2 separate regions of the Homo sapiens genome follow, and region 1 is linked to region 2. Evidence: fine-mapped expression QTL. A gene starts in region 2. The other region holds a variant in brackets. All regions are shown on one strand. Distances are from middle to middle.

What was found. PIP is the estimated chance that this variant, and not a neighbour inherited with it, causes the effect.
Region 1: its variant is fine-mapped to the expression of TMEM177 in whole blood (TOPMed, PIP above 0.99).

Annotation. Positions count from the first base shown.
Region 1 is chr2:119,552,280-119,561,754 of GRCh38, reverse strand. It overlaps CFAP221 (cilia and flagella associated protein 221), which reads right to left. Exons shown (of 24, transcript NM_001271049.2): 4 at 1,980-2,066; 5 at 1,729-1,827. Among named protein-coding and RNA genes, the nearest start is that of CFAP221, 13 kb to the right of the region's middle. The variant CA/A (reference allele first, on the strand shown) is at 3,996.
Region 2 is chr2:119,674,750-119,684,224 of GRCh38, reverse strand. TMEM177 (transmembrane protein 177) reads right to left here and starts at 5,024. Exons shown (of 2, transcript NM_030577.3): 1 at 4,949-5,024; 2 at 2,107-3,393. The coding sequence starts at 3,371. The coding sequence ends at 2,436. RefSeq lists a silencer at 4,948-5,177.

The DNA.
Region 1 (9,475 bases), 120 kb after region 2:
GAAGACAGTAATCTATCTGCTTCTATTTCAGAAAATTATAAAGAAACACAGTCTTTAGTGGCCCAAGAAAAAGAGAAACCAGCACAGAATCATCTGATCCAGACAGCACAGAATAGAAAACAATGTATTGGCAAGAGGGCACAGAAACTTGCTTCTTGTCTCATATGACGTTAACCTTCAGAAGGACTTTTAACCTCTCCAGGCATAGTTTCTTTCTTTGCAAAATGGAGATAATCATATTTTTCCTTAAAGGCATTTTTAAGAATTAAAGCAGATGATGGCATTAAAATGTCAAAAGTACTGCATAAAAGTGAGGTATTATTATTAGCATTATTTGGTAGTAACAGGAAATGTGTCCTGGCATTTTATACAATGCCTGTTCTAGGCATTCTTCTTCTGTTCAGCACAGAATATTCCATCTGAAAGCAATATTCTGGTTTTGTTTTTATTTTTTTATTTTTTTTTGAGATGGAGTCTCGCTTTGTTGCCCAGGCTGGAGTGCAGTGGTGCAACCTTGGCTCACCGCAACCTCCACCTCCTGAGTTCAAGTGATTCTCCTGCCTCAGCCTCCCGAGTAGCTGGGACTACAGGTGCATGCCACTAGGCCTGGCTAATTTTTTGTATTTTTAGTAGAGATGGGGTTTCACCATGTTGGCCAGGCTAGTCTCAAACTCCTGACCTCAGGTGATCCACCCACCTCGGCCTCCCAAAGTGCAGGGATTACACACATGAGCCATCGCGCCTGGCCATTTTTTTTTTAATTGAAACTCCAAAAAAATAATAATGGTCTATCATATTCTTAAGGAAATGTGCTTCTTGATCTAAAATACTATTGTGGGTATGTTGGGTCTAAGATTCTTTCCCTCCCCCTATGGAAATGCATCTCTAATATGACGAAGTGAGTCAGAGACAACACTATCAATTTATAAAAGTTAACTTTGCAAATTTTTATAACTTTTTTGGAAAGAAAAAGTGAAATGCTTTCACGGCAAGTCACCTTATTGTGCAGATTGTAGGAAATTTGCCTGAAAAGAAAAAAAGTAGAAACTCATTTGTTACTAATGTATACTCTTCTGTTTTGGTTTTGAAACATCAATAATTTAGCTAACCTAATGGCTTCTCAAGCTGAAGACTGGGGTCTGGACTATAGAGCAAAGGGAGGGGCAGAGGGGACAGTTTTAAGAGAAGGAATGACGGCAGCTCTGGCTGGAGGCCAAAGGATGAATTAGGTGACCTAGGAAAGGCTCAGAAGAACTCAAACAGTCCCCACCTCCCGGAACCACCCCCATCCCCTGCACCAGGGCTGCCTCTGCAGACATTCCCAGGCATAGGCCAGTGGCTGGTGTTTATAATCATAACTTGGATGGTTGTAAATTTTTCAACCTAGCATTTAAGGGAGTATGTTGAAGTTATTTGAAAAGGCTTCGGCAACTGCCAGCACCACATGATAGATGAAGCTTTAGGCACAGGGCAGTGGGAAGCCTGCAGCAAACCGCGTCTCCTGACTCTGTCCAGGTCCTCTGCAGCCTAACACTTTCCCATCTTGGGCCATGTCACTGGGCAACAAGCTTTGCACGCCAGTCACACTGGTGACCTGGGGAACACCCGGTACTGGGCCAAGAAAGCTCTCAGTGGTCATTCCACCTCTCTTTCTGCCACCATTGAGAATGTAAGTTTTAACCCACCATCAAAAAAAAAAAAAAAAAAAAGCAATTTTAAGAGACCTACCTTACAGTGAACACGGATGCAGTCATAATAGTATCGCCACTCATCTGGAGAAAATGTAACGGTGACCGTGAGGGACAAGCCAGGGACCAGGTGGTGTTCCTGGAAGACAGGTGGCATCTTGTTGGGACAAGCCCCGGACTGCACAGAGAGCAGCACCGGGGGTGACAACACACCACACACCCCCCACCCCACACAGGCCTGAGACGCAGACAACCACACCGTGGGAGAACAGGTAAACCAATGACGCTTACCTTTCTTACATAATTGATCTCAAAGTATTTGGTTTGCGGGGGTAAAATATGAACACGTGTGTCTTCATTGGAAACATTGACCAGATGCTGGGAGAGAAAAAGAAGTATTTAGAGGAAATACACGGCTTTATTTGCATACTCACCTCATTTATGTAGACTTCATCTGTTCCTAAAAGAATTTGAGGAGATATCCTATATTTAACTTTTCAAAATATTTGAAATACATCATACACCATTTAAAAAATAATAAACATAACACACACCATTTCAAGAATTATAAAACGTGCCCCATGTCCCCACTTTCCCCCTTAGGAACAATACCTGCAGTACCCTCCCACCCCAGCCCGAGACTTAGCATCCTTTAGGGCCCCCTCCCCACAGTCCTGAATGTTACTGCAAGTGCTTTTTGTTTAATTCAATTTAGTCCTGCGATTCAATCGAGCTAAGTCAGGCACCAATTCCTAAAGGTTCTCTAATTACATGCCACTGGTTTAGGGGCCCAGAGGACACTGAGACCATCAGAAAGTCAGGAAAAAGAACGTGACTAAGACAGCCTCCAATCCACGCCTGGGCAGATGAAAAGGAAGTTGAGGGTGGGAATTCTCTGACAGTGACAGGAGAAGGCCATCCCTGTGAGGCAGGATCATCTGGTGGATATGTCAGCTGGGTCTCTGAGGAAAGGTGTTTTTCCTTCCTTCGTTTGAAAGGGACACAAGAATTTTGAATTCTGGGGATCTGGGCTTTGCCTGGGCCAGGAGAAGGTTAAGAGACCTTTGGTTTCTGAAGTCTAGGCCAGACGCTGGGTCTGTCCCAGGGGCTTGGAAGTCCCATTGCTTGAGGACTGACATTCTTCAATGCCCTAAATTAGACTTTAGACATTCTCTCCTGATGAGGGTACACTGTGTTTGCCTGTGTTTTTTTGTTGTTGTTGTTGGTTTTTTGTTTTTTATTTTTGAGACAGGGTCTTTCTGTGTTGCTCGGGCTGCAGTGCAGTGGCACAATCATAGCTCACTGAAGCCTCGAACTCCTGCGTTCAAGCAAACCTCCTGCATTTGCTCCTGAGTAGCTGGGATTATAGGCATGCACCACCATGCCCAGCTAATTTTTATTTTTTATTTTTTGTAGAGATGGGGTCTCATTATGTTGTCCAGGCTGGTCTCGAACTCCTGGGCTCAAAGGGTCTTCTCACGTTGGCCTCTGAAAGTGCTGGGATTACAGGTGTAAGCCACTGTGTCTGGTCATGCATGTGTTTAAAAAGTTCTTATTTATTACATGTGAACATTCTTAAAGCACTACAATTTTTGTGACCCTGTTTTGGTGTATCTTCCCTTTCTTACGAAACTTGTTAAAAGCCCAAACAAAAAGTTTCCCAGGCTTCTCTTGGCCTCCAAGGGGCCCTGCACATGGGCAGTCTTGGTGAAGATATGAGTTCCCAGGGGCCAGACCCATGAGAGCAGCCCTTTTGAGAGAGACTGGGAGGAGAGGTTTGCTGAGTCCATCACACTCAGAGTCCTGGGATGACAGGGCCCGCCTGAGGATGGAGAGGGGCCACTCAGCCCCAGGCCTGGAATCTTAACAAAGAGCTTTGTCCCCATGCTTCTCATTGGGGGAGGGCTGTGAAGTCCTCAAGCTGGAGTCCAGGAAGAGCTGGAAGTGGAAGTGGTTCTATCATCTGTTATTACTTAAAAATAATTCAGTAAGAACACTGCAACAAACAAGGGTGCATAAGCTGGTTTTAATATGTACCCTGGGAGTGGTTAAGCTTAGAGGAAATCAGCAATCTGCACTCTAGGGGTGCTTTTTTTTTTTTTTTTTTTGAGACGGAGTCTTGCTCTGTTGCCCAGGCTGGAGTGCAGTGGCGCGATCTTCGCTCACTGCAGCCTCTGCCTCCCAGGTTCAAGTGATTCTCCTGGCCCAGCTAACTTTTGTATTTTTAGTAGAGACAGATGGGGTTTCACCATGTTGGTCAGGCTGGTCTCGAACTCCTGACCTCATGATCCACCCACCTCGGACTCC[CA/A]AAGTGCTGGGATTACAGGCGTAAGCCACCGTGCCTGGCTTCTAGGAGTGCTTTGTGAGCACTGAAGGATCCTAACCCAGCATCTACACTCCACAGGCAGCCATCAGAGTGTTTCAATTATGCCACCTAAATCCATTCTGGAGAGTCTTCTATAGTAGCAGAAAGGATACTCAGAATCTATGGATTAACTAGAAATATTATCCAGGCATTTCCACTCTCAAACAAAAGGGGTATGACAATCTGGTGAGTGCAAAAGACCAATATCCTTTAGAATGACATTCAAGGGCCCCAGACTCCCTTAGTCCCCCATGCTCTGCACTTTACTAAAGTATTCGGTCAGCCAGTTGTCATACCTGCGGCCATCAAAGCCTCCCCACTAGGAACTGCAGCTGGGACTTCGTGAGATTACAAACACAATGATCTTTTTGCCTGCTTGCTAGTAAGTGTTCATATGTGTTGCAGAGTGTCTTCTCAGACCTGTTCGCTGCAGCCGACCACCTGTAGCAAGGCTGCTGAGGAGTGGACCTATGACTCCCACATGCTGTCAGGGTCAGACTCTCAATATCTGCCTGACAATTAGAAATAAGCTCACTGGCTTAAATCAGTTTCCAACAAGCGACATTATGGGCAGAAGACCAGAACAGAGATCTGTCCTCAAAGCTGCTGGGTTCGCTCCATTTTTCCAGTATTCCTGAATGGTCCCAAGGAAGACAGGAACCTAAACTCCCAAGACTGGAGATCCAGCCAGCACCTATGGACAAATAAAGAGACTTGACCTTTCCTCCAACATGAGTATGTCACAGCAAATCCAAATCTACCCACTACCCATTTGAACATGAAGGGGGCATGCTAGAATTCATGACATAATATCTATATTGTCAAGTGAGTAAAAAATTTGCAATAGGAGGGCTGGGCACAGTGGCTCACACCTGTAATCCCAGCACTTTGGGAGGTCAAGGCAGGTGGATCACCTGAGGTCAGGAGTTTGAGACCAGTCTGGCCAACATGGTAAAACTCCATCTCTACTAATAATACAAAAATAGCTGGGCGTGGTGGTGGGAGCCTGTAATCCCAGCTACTCGGGAGGCTGAGGCAGGAGAATCGCTTGAACTGGGAGGTGGAGGTTGCAGTGAGCTGAGATCGCGCCATTGCACTCCAACCTGGGTGACAAGAGTGAAACTCTGTCTCAAAAAAAAAAAAAAGAAAAAAAATTTAGCAATAAGAAAATACTAGATGATTTTCTTAGAGAATAAAACAACATAGATCCAATTTGTGATAATAAAAGATACATTATTTGACTATAGTTTCCCATGTCCACCTTTAAAAGATTCTTGAACTGGAATTGTTCATTTGGATCAACAGAGAAATAAGAAACAACAGACTCAAACAAAACTGTAGATATTTAGTTAATAGGAGCTCAGAAACAGGAAGAAAACGTTCAGCTTCTGCTTAAGATCTGAAGTGAAATGGAGACTAGTGGAGACTGAAGGCCTGGACAGCTGGGTGCAGTGGCTCACACCTGTAGTCCCAGCTACTTGGGAGGCGGAGGTGGGAGGATCACTTGAGCCCAGGAGTTTGAGGCAGCAGTGAGCTGTGATCCACGTGGTGGATGGCAGAGAAGGCAGTCAGCAGACATAGTGATGGTGCGGGCAGGGATATTTCAACCAAATAATGTCTAAGACAATTCCAGGGGACATCGTGCCAATGAGCTTTTTCAGTGAACTTAAAACAACAACAAAACATGACAAATTATAGCAAAAATGAACAGCTTATTTTCTACACTTTAGAAAACAAAGTCAACATCCAAAAGCCTGACTTCCAAAATAGGAAGATTTTATTAATTTTGCAGTTCTCAATTTTTGGTTGCAAATACTCATTGCTTCCCATAATCATCCATGTTCTTTGTCCTCTCAAAGATTTGTCTGAGCCCAGGAAGACTGCAGAGGCCATTTTGTGCAATGTCCTTATTTCATGAAGACACAGTGACCTGGTACTGTCCATGCCACAGGGTGAGTGCAAGACCTGGACCTAGAACCTGGTCTCCAGCTCTGGGCTAGGGCTCTTTCCACTACATCCTACCGTCTCATGGCTCAGCACATCTCAGTGCCCAGCCTGCATTTCCTGTCTTTTTTTTAATACTTTATCAGCAGATCAGCTTTATTTTTAGATCGTTATAAATAATATCCCTTCAGGGATAAAATGGCAGTCCTGCCTTTCCATTTATAACTAAAACTGGGGAAAATAATAATCATTCAAAGGAAAAACAAACCTTGGGAAAATGAATAAAGTGCTTAGAAAGTGTATGTTAAATTAATATGAAGAGTTTATTTGAAAACATAACAAAACACAAGTAATCCAGCGTTACCCTTAGGCAACATAAAATTGCCTAAAATCCTACCCTGTGTTTCAATTTTTGGTCAGTAGAACTCCTAGTCCCTCCGGAATCTCTGTTCCCCTGGGAGCTGACCTTCTGCTGGCCTGGGGGTCCCTGTTTCCTTGGTGCTGTCTCCACAGGGCACCATATTTACTCCAAAGTGAAATTCAGCCCCTTCTAGAGTTTTTCAGAACCGCTTCCCACTCCACAAAAACCCCACAAAAACCATCAACCACACATAAAATAGTCATAAGTTTAACAGCCATTACTCAGGATTTGTAGGAATTTCCCCAAGAGGGCTCACAGCTCTCTTCACCCCCAATCCCATGCTGCTTCAGGCTCCCTTCTGTGTCTCCTTGGGGGAGTCTATTCTCCTCCTTCTAGAGGGAATGGCAGAACCTGCCCTCCAGTGAAGTCTTGGCTTGGAGTGGGTCCCGACCCTTCAAACACAACCTTCAAACACAACACTTTGGCCTGCAAGTTCAGTGACACAGCTTCTCAAAGAAGGTTCATACTTAACATAAGGGATCCAAGGACAAATTCAAGCAGCCTTATAAGTTCTTTAAAGCGTTTTATTTTAAAATGCATCTTGGTCATGCATTTACTCTAAAATTTTGCTCTATATTGCATTTCTCCAAAATGCAAGAGTAAAATTGATGCTCTAGAAAGACGTACTATGTTTATACTGTGGCTTCAATTCCCCCAACCCCACACACTGAGAAGCCAATGCGATTCATGGCCCTGATTTTGAGATGCAAGATCTTCAGGGTCTCTAAGGCTGTAATAGAATAGGTCTCTAATGTAAACTGATGTAAAAACAAATATTATTTGACAAAGCCAGAAGAAACTGTTCATTTATTTAAGGTAAGACTTTTTAGGCTAACAATTTTGTTTTGGGCTGGCAATAGCAACACTGGTTGTCTTAAAGGAAAATTGATGGATTATTTACTTAATAATTTCCAGGACCAAATCACTCCACAAAGGTAAAAACAAATTTAAGGGGTCTTGGTTTTGAGAAAACCAGGGACCATTATTTCAAATTTTAAAGTAAATTGAAACACTGATTTCAACATGAATGCAAGCAAAATGTTTCAGATCCTTTAGCCAGATCTGGATTGATCTGAAATGTTAATGAACAATTTATTTGTGGTTTTAAATACACATTCAGTCATTCCATTCTTGGGCAATTTGCATAGTTTGCTGTAGCAAAACCAAGATAAAAGCAGTTGTTGGATTTTCCACCTTGTTTGGCAAGAATTTCAAGGTAACTGCCTTAAGCTTCCGCTTCACTTTGCCGTGGAAACAGGGGGCTGGCTCTCCCAAGATTTCCGAGAATGTTATTAAGATGAAATCACTTTACTTTTATCTATTTGTTTGATTTAATGTCTGATCGAAGCAGTATGACCACCTAGACTTTACATTGTATTTACTTGGAATTAATGAGCCTCTGCCACTCTTCTAATAACCTCACAACTCTTACATTAAAGTGAGTTCCACATCCTTCACTCACAAGGGCTTGTTGGGTGCCTTCTGCATGTCAGGCACTGCACAAGGTGCTGGGGAAGCAGCAATATGAAAGACAGACATGGTCTCCATTCTGCAGCAGAATGACGCCGAGCTGAGGCTTCATATCTTTTTCAATAACTAAACCATACTCCCTTGCTCCCCACGAATTCTCAGTGGGGGTGAAATTACCCACAAGGGAAGGAAGTGAAAACTGATTCTTGGGAGGACAAAGGAATCTTAGACATTGTGATGGCTACAACCTTCCAAAGCTCAATCCTACCTGACAAAATCTTATTCCTTAGTATTTAGTTTCTCTCATTCATGTCTCCCTAAGGGATGCTAATGAAAGAAAATGTTGAGAACCACATTATCCTTTAAAATTCCACTAAGTTGATCTTCCTCAAATGCATCATAACCCTGCTCAAAAATACTTCCTTAACTTCCTGCTGCTTTCTGAATCACATGCACGTTCCTTACGTTGATATTCTTGTCCCAACCCACATGTCTCACCTTCTCCATTACCCGCTCCAAAGCCCTACCATCCAGGCAAACCAGCCTCCAAATACGCCGTTTGTTGGCTCAACTCAAGCCCCTGCATGTCTTTCTCTGGGCCCCAAATCCCTTCTCCCCACTTCCTACTTGGCTTTTGGGCTACCCCCAATGGCCTCTCCTCCACACGCCTCCAACACCCTCCTACAGAGGTGAAACGGTGCCTTTTCTCCACAGAACATTTTCTTTGGACTTCCTCATGCCACCTTGCTTGCCTGGTCTCATGTCTGAGTTATTTGGTGGTTTTGAAACACTTTCTGCTACTTGGAAAACTCCTTGATTTTATTTATCTTAGCATTTCCCATAATGCTTCAACACTTTGTTTGGCATGTAATGGGGACTCTCACCAACTGTGGGTGAAATTAAACAGAAGAAAATCCTTAACTCTATTAGAAACAAGGTAACATCAACCAGAGAGTACAACTTCGTTAGAGATAACAAAATAATATGCTGTTTCTTATCTATTTATTTATTTCTTATTAAAGAAAGAAATATTTCTCTTTATTTCTTATTAAAGAAATATTTCTATTTATTTCTTATTAAAGAAAGAAATATTTCTATTTATTTCTTATTAAAGAAATATTTCTATTTATTTCTTATTAAAGAAAGAAATATTTCTATTTATTTCTTATTAAAGAAAGAAATATTTCTATTTATTTCTTATTAAAGAAAGAAATATTTCTATTTATTTCTTATTAAAGAAAGAAATATTTCTATTTATTTCTTATTAAAGAAAGAAATATTTCTATTTATTTCTTATTAAAGAAAGAAATATTTCTATTTATTTCTTATTAAAGAAAGAAATATTTCTATTTATTTCTTATTAAAGAAAGAAATATTTCTATTTATTTCTTATTAAAGAAAGAAATATTTCTATTTATTTCTTATTAAAGAAAGAAATATTTCTATTTATTTCTTATTAAAGAAAGAAATATTTCTATTTATTTCTTATTAAAGAAAGAAATATTTCTATTTATTTCTTATTAAAGAAAGAAATATTTCTATTTATTTCTTATTAAAGAAAGAAATATTTCTATTTATTATGAAATA
Region 2 (9,475 bases):
ACACGAAAGCTGTGTGGGCAGGAGGGGAGAGCAGTTCAGGAACCAAACTGCAGTGAGGCTAGGATCCAGAGCAAGGGAAAGTGGGACACGGATGGGCAGGAGATGCGGTTTTCGCCAGAAAGCATGGGGATGTCTCTAAAGGGCTTTAGGCAGGAGAGTCACCCAGTCAAACCTGCACTTCCAGGAGCTGGGAGAACTGGGAGAAGAGTCAGGAGGCCCAGTGGAGATGAAGAAAAGGGGATGGAGCCGAGAGCTACTGGGAGGGAAAGCACCAAGGCTGGGTGCTGGGTGAGTCATGCAGTGGGAGGGTGGGAGGGGGAAGAAGGGACACGGAGCTCAGCCAACCTGCCAGGGGGGCTCTCAGTGGGAGGGCCTGAGGTGGCCTGAGCCGGGCTGTGGAGGACTGGAGGATGCGAACAGTGCAGCAAGGCGGAGCAATGCACGCGCACACACACGCACACACATACACACGGCTGGAGGATGTGTGCGCCAAGGTTGGAGGGTAGCATGTAAGGCTTGTGTGAGGACTGGGAACAGCCTGTGAGTGGAGACAAGGTCTGTGACTTGGAGCAGAGGGAGCTGAGTAAGCAGCCTTTTCTCCCCATCGTGAGGCTGCCTTCGCTAATGGTTCGGGCAGATCAGCAGGAATGCCTGAAACCATCATGGCTCCTGCAGTACTGAGAGCAGATGGGTTGGGGGTGGGAGTGGTGAGAAAGTGGAGCCCATCAAATCCAGGCCCCAGACCGTACTGCTCAGGAATGAGGTGGCCTCACATGGCCTTGTGGCCCTTTAAGTACAGCAGCAGCAGGTGGGTGACACCCCAAGGGGCCCCATGAAATGGTGTGTCCCTGAGTGAAGACTGGTTCACCCAGCCACTGCCTCATCTATCCACCTATGTATTCCAAGCCCGTGCCCAGTGCCGTCCTAGGTACCAGGGCCTGGGGAATGAGCAAGGATGTGCTGCCCTCAGGAACTCAGCCTGTTCAGGTCCAGTGTGAGGACCCGTGAGCTGGCCCAGCACACTGAGCTCCAGCCCACAGTGAGGGGCCCAGCAGGGAGGTGTGCCATTCCCACTGCATTCTGCAGCCCCACTGGCTCACTCTCCTCTCCAGGTCTACTGCCAGGACCTGCCACCACTGTGTTCAAATACTTTCCCAGGGAAAACCTCATCTCCAACTAAAAGATGTCATGAAGCCAAATTGGGTCTGGCTCCCTGATCACAACTCTCCTCACCTTGCCCTGCTGTGGTCCTGTCCAAGGATCTAACCCAGGGGCCCGGCTCCATCCACCACCGGAGGGCTCAAGGGAAATAAGCAGGGCAGGGCTGCAGTCTCCCCTGGGTCCTGAGTGGGACCAGGCCTAACCCACTGCCCACCTCCACCCCTCTGCTCTCCTTGCTGACCCCTACGAGCCAAGCTTACCCCCACCTTGCTGCCTCTCCTCTCCAAGCCCTGGCCACGCTGTGCCTGGGGAGGCTGACAGCTCTGGATGGCGCCAGTGGGCTCCCTCCCTGCAGGGCCTCGGTCTTACAATGGTTTGTTCCTTCCTCTACATTTGAGTGAAGCTCTTGCCAAGTCTCCCATGCCACAGATCTCGGAGTTCTGGAACACCTCCCCTCCCCTCAGGTCCAGGGACTCTCCTGGCACGTGCTGGTCTCCTTCTCCCTGAGTGTGCCATCTGCATCCACGGGACCTTGACTGACACAACACTCTTAAGGCCCCCTCACCTTAAAACAGCCTCTCAGGACCACACTAACTTCTCATCTTGGGCTCTCTAGTCTTTTAACCTCTAACAGAGTGGAGGAAAATTGGGATTTGACCACCACTTAAATTGAGGGGTGGTTCTTCACTGTAGGAAAGTGTTCACATAACTGCTAGTACCCTGGTGTTGAGGTGTGCCCTGACTCCCACAGCCTGGTGGCACTCAAGACCAAGAAGGAGGCTGGGCGAGGTGGCTCACGCCTGTAATTCCAGCACTTTGAGAGCCTGAGGAGGGTGGATCACTTGAGCCCAGGAGTTTGAGGCTGCAGTGAGCTATGGTCACCACTGCAGTCCATCCCGGGCAACAGAGTGAGATGCTCTCAAAAAAAAAAAAAAAACGACCAAGAAGGAGGGATGTCTGTTTATTTACAGTGCACCCTTTGTGCCAGGCCCTTATGTTCATGACCTTACCCAACTCTACAATCTTGCAAGGCGGTTTACATCATCTCCACTTTACAGTTCAAGAAACAAAGGCTCAGATTCATAGCCCCTGAATAGTCCCTCATAGTCCCTGAGTTCATAAGTAGTGGTTATAGTACAATCTAAGCTATTTAATTCCAAAGCCAGTGATTTTTCTGGCCGTGAGCTATAGGTCCAAAGGCTCCAACAGGGCCCTCCAGACTCAATGGCAGGGTGGTGTCTGCACAAGCTGGAAGTGTCCTTGTGATGAGCCCATCAGGAGCGGCCCGGATTGAGCATCCCCCTCCACATCTGCAGCACAGAGTCCCGGCGGGTGGTGTAGGGTAAATGTTTGATTCGGAACAAGTGTCTGGGGACGATGTTCCCGCTGGGTGTATACAGCTTCTCCCCGTCTTTGCCCAAGAGACTGCGCAGGGCCAGGTTGCCCGACAGAAGCTTCTCATAGAACTCCACTCCACCACAGGCATAGGCTGCAGAGAGGGAGGCCGTGCGGCGGTCCAGCCAGGACTCCACGGCATGAGTGAGAGAATCCTGGGAGAAGGCGTAGGCCACAAAGCCTGCCACTGCTGCCACCAAGCTGAAGGCAGCCCGTAAATTCATGGGGCCTGCATGGAGCCCCAGGGTGTACTTGGCACCCACGCCCAGTGCCCAGGTCCCTGCCAGGCAAGCTGGGGCCAGCAGGGCGTGCACGGCAGTGGTACTGCTTTCCAGGTACACCACTTCCCTGGCCAAGGCGAACTTCTGGGCTTCACGGGACAAGGTCAGGGAAGCTCTCAGCCGGGCGCCTGCTGGGCTCCGCCAGTCCACTGTATGCCCATGTATGACCACGGGATGGTTAGTGTTGATCACTAGGTCTCCCAAGAAACTGGCAGGGATGCCCACCACAGCCCCAGCAGGGAGTCTTGGGAAGCCTGCACTCACAGGTTGGAAGGTGAAGGTGGTGAAGGGCTTGTAGCAATGGCCTGAAGGAACACCTATGTCCTGTAGCACCTCTTGGAAGAGGCTCTGCAGCTGTGGAGGGAGCGGAGCTGGCTGGCCCTGAGGCCAGTACTGGTAGAGCCATTGGACCACGGGATCCGGGAAGAGGTGGTACGAGATTGGAACTCCAAACAGGCCTGCACAGGAACCCACCAAGAGGCCTGTCCTGTGTCTCTGCACAAATGCTGCGGTCCGCCACAGGGGACCTGCCATGAGTGTAGTCACTGCGGACAATCTGGGCCAAGAAAAAGAGAAGTCAGCCAGTTTCCCTGGGTCAGCCTGCAGACTGAACATCCTCCAGGGTCCACACCACCTTTTTAAACCAAAGTAACACAGCATAGTGGTGAAGAGTGTGGGCTCTAGAGCCAGAGTGCCTGTGTTCAAATCCCAGCTCCGTCTCTGTGCGTCAATTTCCCCATGTGCCAAACAGGTGTGTCGTAATGGCCCACCTCTAGGGTGGCGGTGATGAGCACATGAATAAACATACATAAAACATTTAGTGTCTGGCACAGCAGCAGATATTCCTTATAATAATGGCTGTAATGACTTTTATTCCCATCGCTGGGCACGGCACTCCAACTGCCTCATTCCACTCATCCCATGGTAAAGCCCTATGATTACTAATTTATAAGGAAAAACGTGTTCAATTTATTGAGTGCTTACTATATGCTAGACTCAGTTCTGAGCACTCTTACCGATTGAACCCTCACAACCCCATGACCTAATTACTACAGCTAACCCTATTTCAAAGCTGTGAAAACTTAAATGGCCAAAATCCTAAGCTAGTGAAGTGACAGTGTTATGGGCTGCACTGTGTCTCCTCCTCCTCCCCAGTTCATATATTTAAGTCCTAACCCCCAGTACCTCAGACTGTGGCTGTATTTGGAGACAGGGTCTTTAAGGAGATAATTAAGATAAAATGAGGCCATCAGTATGGATCCTAATCCAATTTGACTGGTGTACTTATAAGAAGAGATTAGGATGCAAACAGGCACAGCAGGAAGATCATGTGAGGATCCAGGGAAAAGGCTACCACCTACAAGCCAAGAAGGGAGGTCTCAGAAGACACCAACCCTGTTAACACCCTGGTCTTGAACTTCCAGCCTCCATAACTCCCAGAGGACAAATTTCTGCTGGTTGGGCCACCCAGTCTCCGGTACTTCGGCATGGCAGCTCTAGCAAGCTAACACAGGCATAGTCAGGTGTCCACAGCAAACTTTTTGTTTTAGAAAACTTGTTATGCCAAATTACAAGCATATACCAAAGTAGACAAAATAGTACATCCATCAACTTCAATCCCATCAACTCATGGCCAATCTTGTTTGATTTCTCTTTCCACCACACTTCCGTCCAACTGGTTTATTTTGAAACATCCCCGGGCATCCTATCACTTCATCCGTGAATACGTCAGTAAAAATTCACAATTATTTCACTTTGATTGAAACTTACTGTATTCCTGTCCGTGAAAAGTGCTTAATGAGCAACGAATGAGTTGCCGCAAACAAAAACGCAGGGTACCGCTTGGCCTATCTTAATCAAGAACTCCTATAAGAATCATTATCATTCGGGCTTTTTTTTTTTCCCAATGCGGAAAGTGAGGCTAAGAAAGGAAAGGTCTGGACCAAAGTCCAACGTCCCTAGGGCCATCGCGCTGCGGGGTGGGCCTAGAACACAGTACCATGCAGCCCGCCGGTGGCTGGGGGAGGAGGGGCTGCAGGAGCCCCGCAGAGGGGTCCTCGCTACGCTTCCACTCTGGGCCCCTAGGCTACTCCGCAGTCTGAACGCGTTACCGGGTCGCATCAGGCCGGAGAAGGGTCCCTCCCGCTCGTCCGTGCGCTCACCTCCGCCGCCGCTCGGAACGCCTACATGTGCGCGCGGCAGGGCGGCCGCAAAGCACGCCGGCCGGGGATCTGGGGGCGGGGACTTCGGGAGGCGGAGCTCGCCGGCCCCGGATCTTGGGATGGGGACTTCAGGGGGCGGAGCTCGCCGGCCGGAGATCTCGGGGCGAGGATTTCAGGGAGGGGAGCTCGCTCGACGGGTCTGGGGGCGGGACTCTTGGGGGTGTGGCTGGGGGGGCCTCAAGGGGATGTCCGTGGGGGGCTCCGGCCGCCGCAGAGGCTCCTTCTCTAACTGTGCACCTTGGGGTGGGTCCGCTAGCACTTCCTCCTCTGCGTTGAAATGCGTCTTTGATTAATACAAAAATTAGCTGGGCGTGGTGGCGCACGCCTGTAGTCCCCAGCTGCTGGGGAGGCTGAGGCAGGAGAATCGCTTGAACCTGGGAGGCAGAGGTTGCAGTGAGCCGAGAATACGCCACTGCACTCCAACCTGGGCGACAGAGCGAGACTCCGTCACACACACACACACACACACACACCCCGGTGTCTTTGATCATGCCACACACACACACACACACACCCCGGTGTCTTTGATCATGCCACACACACACACACACACACACATACCCTGGTGTCTTTGATCATGACACACACACACACACACACCCACCCCGGTGTCTTTGATCATCACACACACACACACACACACACACACACATCCCGGTGTCTTTGATCATGCCGTTGAACCCCCGAAGGAACGGCAGCCCCGCGTGGGTCACCAGGCGGCCTATGGCAGGGCCCCCATCAGAACCCATGCCCATCTGACTGGCCGGCCCGTGTACTTCTCCGTCTGGAAGCGCTCACCCTTGGCGGGGAGCTCTGAGCTTTATGTTTATTACCATGTTCGCTGCCCCCCAAGCTCCTCCCAGGTGCTTCACACTGTACAGTCCACAGAGCAGCGTGCCATCTGTCATTTCTCCTTTCCAGCTGCTCTGTGAGGTAGATGAGGGATCATCTAATCTGTGCACCAAATCCAGCTCTCCACCTGCTTTTGTAAATAAAGTTTTCTTGGAACACAGCCATGCCCAATCCTTTACAGAGGGTGAAAACAGACTGCCTAGGGTTAAAGCCGGGCTCCACCCCTTACTAGCTGTGTGATAAAATGAGTTGGTGTATATGTAACCTGTGCCTCACGGTTTGTGCCGCCTAGCCATTAGCTATTATTATTAAAGTCTGTTCTGTTTCTGAGCCCCCCCCCCCAATTTTGGCTGCTCAGTTGTTTGTATGTAAATAGTGCAATGTGACCTCAGCCAAAGCCAGAATGTGGGACATTCTACAGGGCAAATGACGTGGTTTATCCAACAAATCAATGGCATAAACAGGGAAGGAGGGGGACTCAAAAGAAAAGAGACTTGAGAGTCATTGCAGTTAAATGCAATATGTGACTTTTATTGGGATCCTGAACCAAATAAACTAACTGTAAAAAAGACACCTTGGGCTGGGCGCGGTGGCTTACGCCTGTAATCCTGGCACTTTGGGAGGCCAAGGAGGGCAGATCACCTGAGGTCAGGAGTTCAAGACCAGCCTGGCCAACATGGTGAAACTCCGTCTCTACTAAAATACAAAAATTAGCCAGGCATGGTGGCACACGCCTATAATCCTAGCTATTCAGGAGGCTGAGACGGGAGAATCGCTAAAACCTGGGAGATGGTGGTTGCAGTAAGCCGAGATTGTGCCACTGCACTCCAGCCTGGGTGGCTAAGTGAGACTCTGTCTCAAACAAACAAAGGAACAAACAAACAAACAAAAGGCATCTTGGAGAAATTTGAATTTGGATTTGAATATTAGATGATATTAATGAATTATTGCTTATTTCATCAGATGGGATGATGACATGGAGTTTATATAAACCAAAAAATTCTTACTAGAGATGCATACTGAAGTGTTTACAGGTGAAATGACACAATGTCTACTATTTGATTCAAAATATTCCAACGAAACCAAATCCAAACAACAACAACAACAAAAAAACAGGGGCACAGATGAAACAACATTGACAAAGTGTTAGTTATTGTGAAGCTGCATGACAGGTTCAGGGATCTTCATCATACCATGCTCTACTTTTGTGTGTGTTTGGAAATTTCCATAATAAAAAGTTTAAAAAAATTTTTTAAAGTAGGCTGGCCAGTTGGACTCCATCAAAATGAAAAACTTTTGTGCATGAAAAATACTATCAAGAAAAGTGGAAAGACAATCCACAATAGGAGAAAATATTTACAAATCATAGATCTGATAAGGGTGTAGTATCCAGAATATATAAAGAACTCTTAGCAACTCAACAAGCCAATTAATAAATGGGCAAATGACTTGAGTAGACATTTCTCAAAAAATATATACAAATATATGCCAAAAAGCATATAAAAATGTGCTCACTAGTATCAGTCACTAGGGCTGATCACAGAGCGGCTAGGGAAATGCAAATCACCACAATGAGATATTATTCACAACCACTGGATTTCTATAAGGAAAAAGAAAACCTAGAAAATAATATATGTTGGAGAGGATGTGGAGAAACTGAAACCCTCATACATTGCTGGTGGGAATGTAAAATGGTGCAGCCACTGTAGAAAACAGTTTAGAGCTTCCTCAAAAAGTTAACCTTAAGCTAAGCTAGGCTCAGTGGCTTGTGCCTGTAGTCCCAGCTACTTAGAAGGCCGAGGTGGATTGCTTGAGGCCAAGAGTTCGAGGCCAGCCTGGGGAACATAGTGAGACCCTGTTTTCTAAAAAAAAATAGTAATTTTTTTAAAAAGTTAAACTTAGAATTACCATATGAATCAGCTATCCACTCCTAGAAATATACCCAAAATAATTGAAAACAGGCACTCAAACAAATACTTGTACCTAAATGTTCATAGCAATGCTATTTACACTAGTGAAAATGTAGAAATCAAAATGTTCATCAACTGATGAATGGATAAACAAATTATGGCATAGTTCATGCAACGGAATATTAGTTAGTCATAAAAAAGAATAAATACTGAGCCATGCTACAACATGGATGACCTTACAAACATTATGCTAAGTGAAAGACGCTAGACACAAAAGGACAAAGACTGTATCATTCCATTTATATAAAATGTCCGGAATAGGCAAATCCACTGAGACAGAGAGCAGGTTAGTGGTTGCTAAGGGATGAGGGAGGGGGTAAATGGGAGTGACTGCTAACAGGTACGGGGCTTCTTTTTGCAGTGATGAAATGTTTGTGTATTAGATAGTAGTGATGGTTGCACAACATGGTGAATAGACTAAAACCCGTAAATTTTTACCCTTTACAATGGTTAAAATGGTAAATTTTAAGTAATGTGCATTTAATCTCAATTTAAAAAATGCATATATATGTAGGTTGGCCAATCCTACCGCAGAGCTGATAGAACATTTATCAACCGTTCAACTGAAGCACCTGGGAGAGTTATTTTTCAGGAGTCAGGAGTGAGAACCCATGGGGTAGGCAGGTGTTTTGCCTGAAGCTGGGCTTCCCAGTCAGAGTGTGTGGTCATCTGCATCCCGTGCTTGCAGGTACAACCATCTCCAACAGCTCCTCCTTCATCGCTTTCTGAATATCTGAAATGCTCCCACTTATGTGTTCTTACACTTATTCATTCAGCTCCTACCCTGTGCCAAGTGATGGGGGCAAAACACCGATAAGAAAAAGTCACAGTCCTCCGTAGCTCCCTGATCATTAAAGCAGACACATGAACCCCTGGGAGCAAAGAGTCCTCCCCTCTTCCCTCTGGTAGGGCCACAAAGGAGGTAACGGCCACTTCTCCACAGGGTGGTTCCCGGGTATCTGAACTCTAGAAGACTCTTTGGAATTTATGGGTGGTCAAAGGGGCAGGTTGGAGTGCTTTTCCTGTAGAGACTGGTGAGGTGAGAGTTGGTCCAATCCCAGCTCTCAGCCAGATCCTCTCCTGAGTGCAGAAGTGGATGGCATTGAGAAAGAAGCAGCCACAACAAAACGGGCAAGGCCCCAGAGGGAAGCACCTTGGGTGACTTTAGGTTTAGGAGGCAGGCTCTCAGAGCTGAAGCTTATATGGTTCCAAAACCTCCTTACAACCCTCTAGGTGAGGCCAGAGTGTTGCAAATGTCCAGCCCCGTCAGCACAGGCTGCCCGGCTGCCCGGCTGCCAGCTGGGTGGGAGGCAGCACTGAGCTGCTGCTGTTTGTCGGGATTCAGGAATGGCTGTGACAGATCTCTTGTCCCTTCTCCTCCTCTGCTGGGATTCTCCTTTTCAGGAATGTCCTACTCTAGGTCTGGGGCTGGCTGTGGTCTGCTCCTGCTGTGGAGCCCGTCTTCCCCCTGCCAGGTGGCCCTGGCTGGGGACAACACCCAGGAGTGCACTGCGGGGGTTGTGAATTGGGCCCACAATTGTGCCCATAAATGGTGCTCCTGGGCTGCCAGCCAGCCAGGCATCTTAGCGGCAGA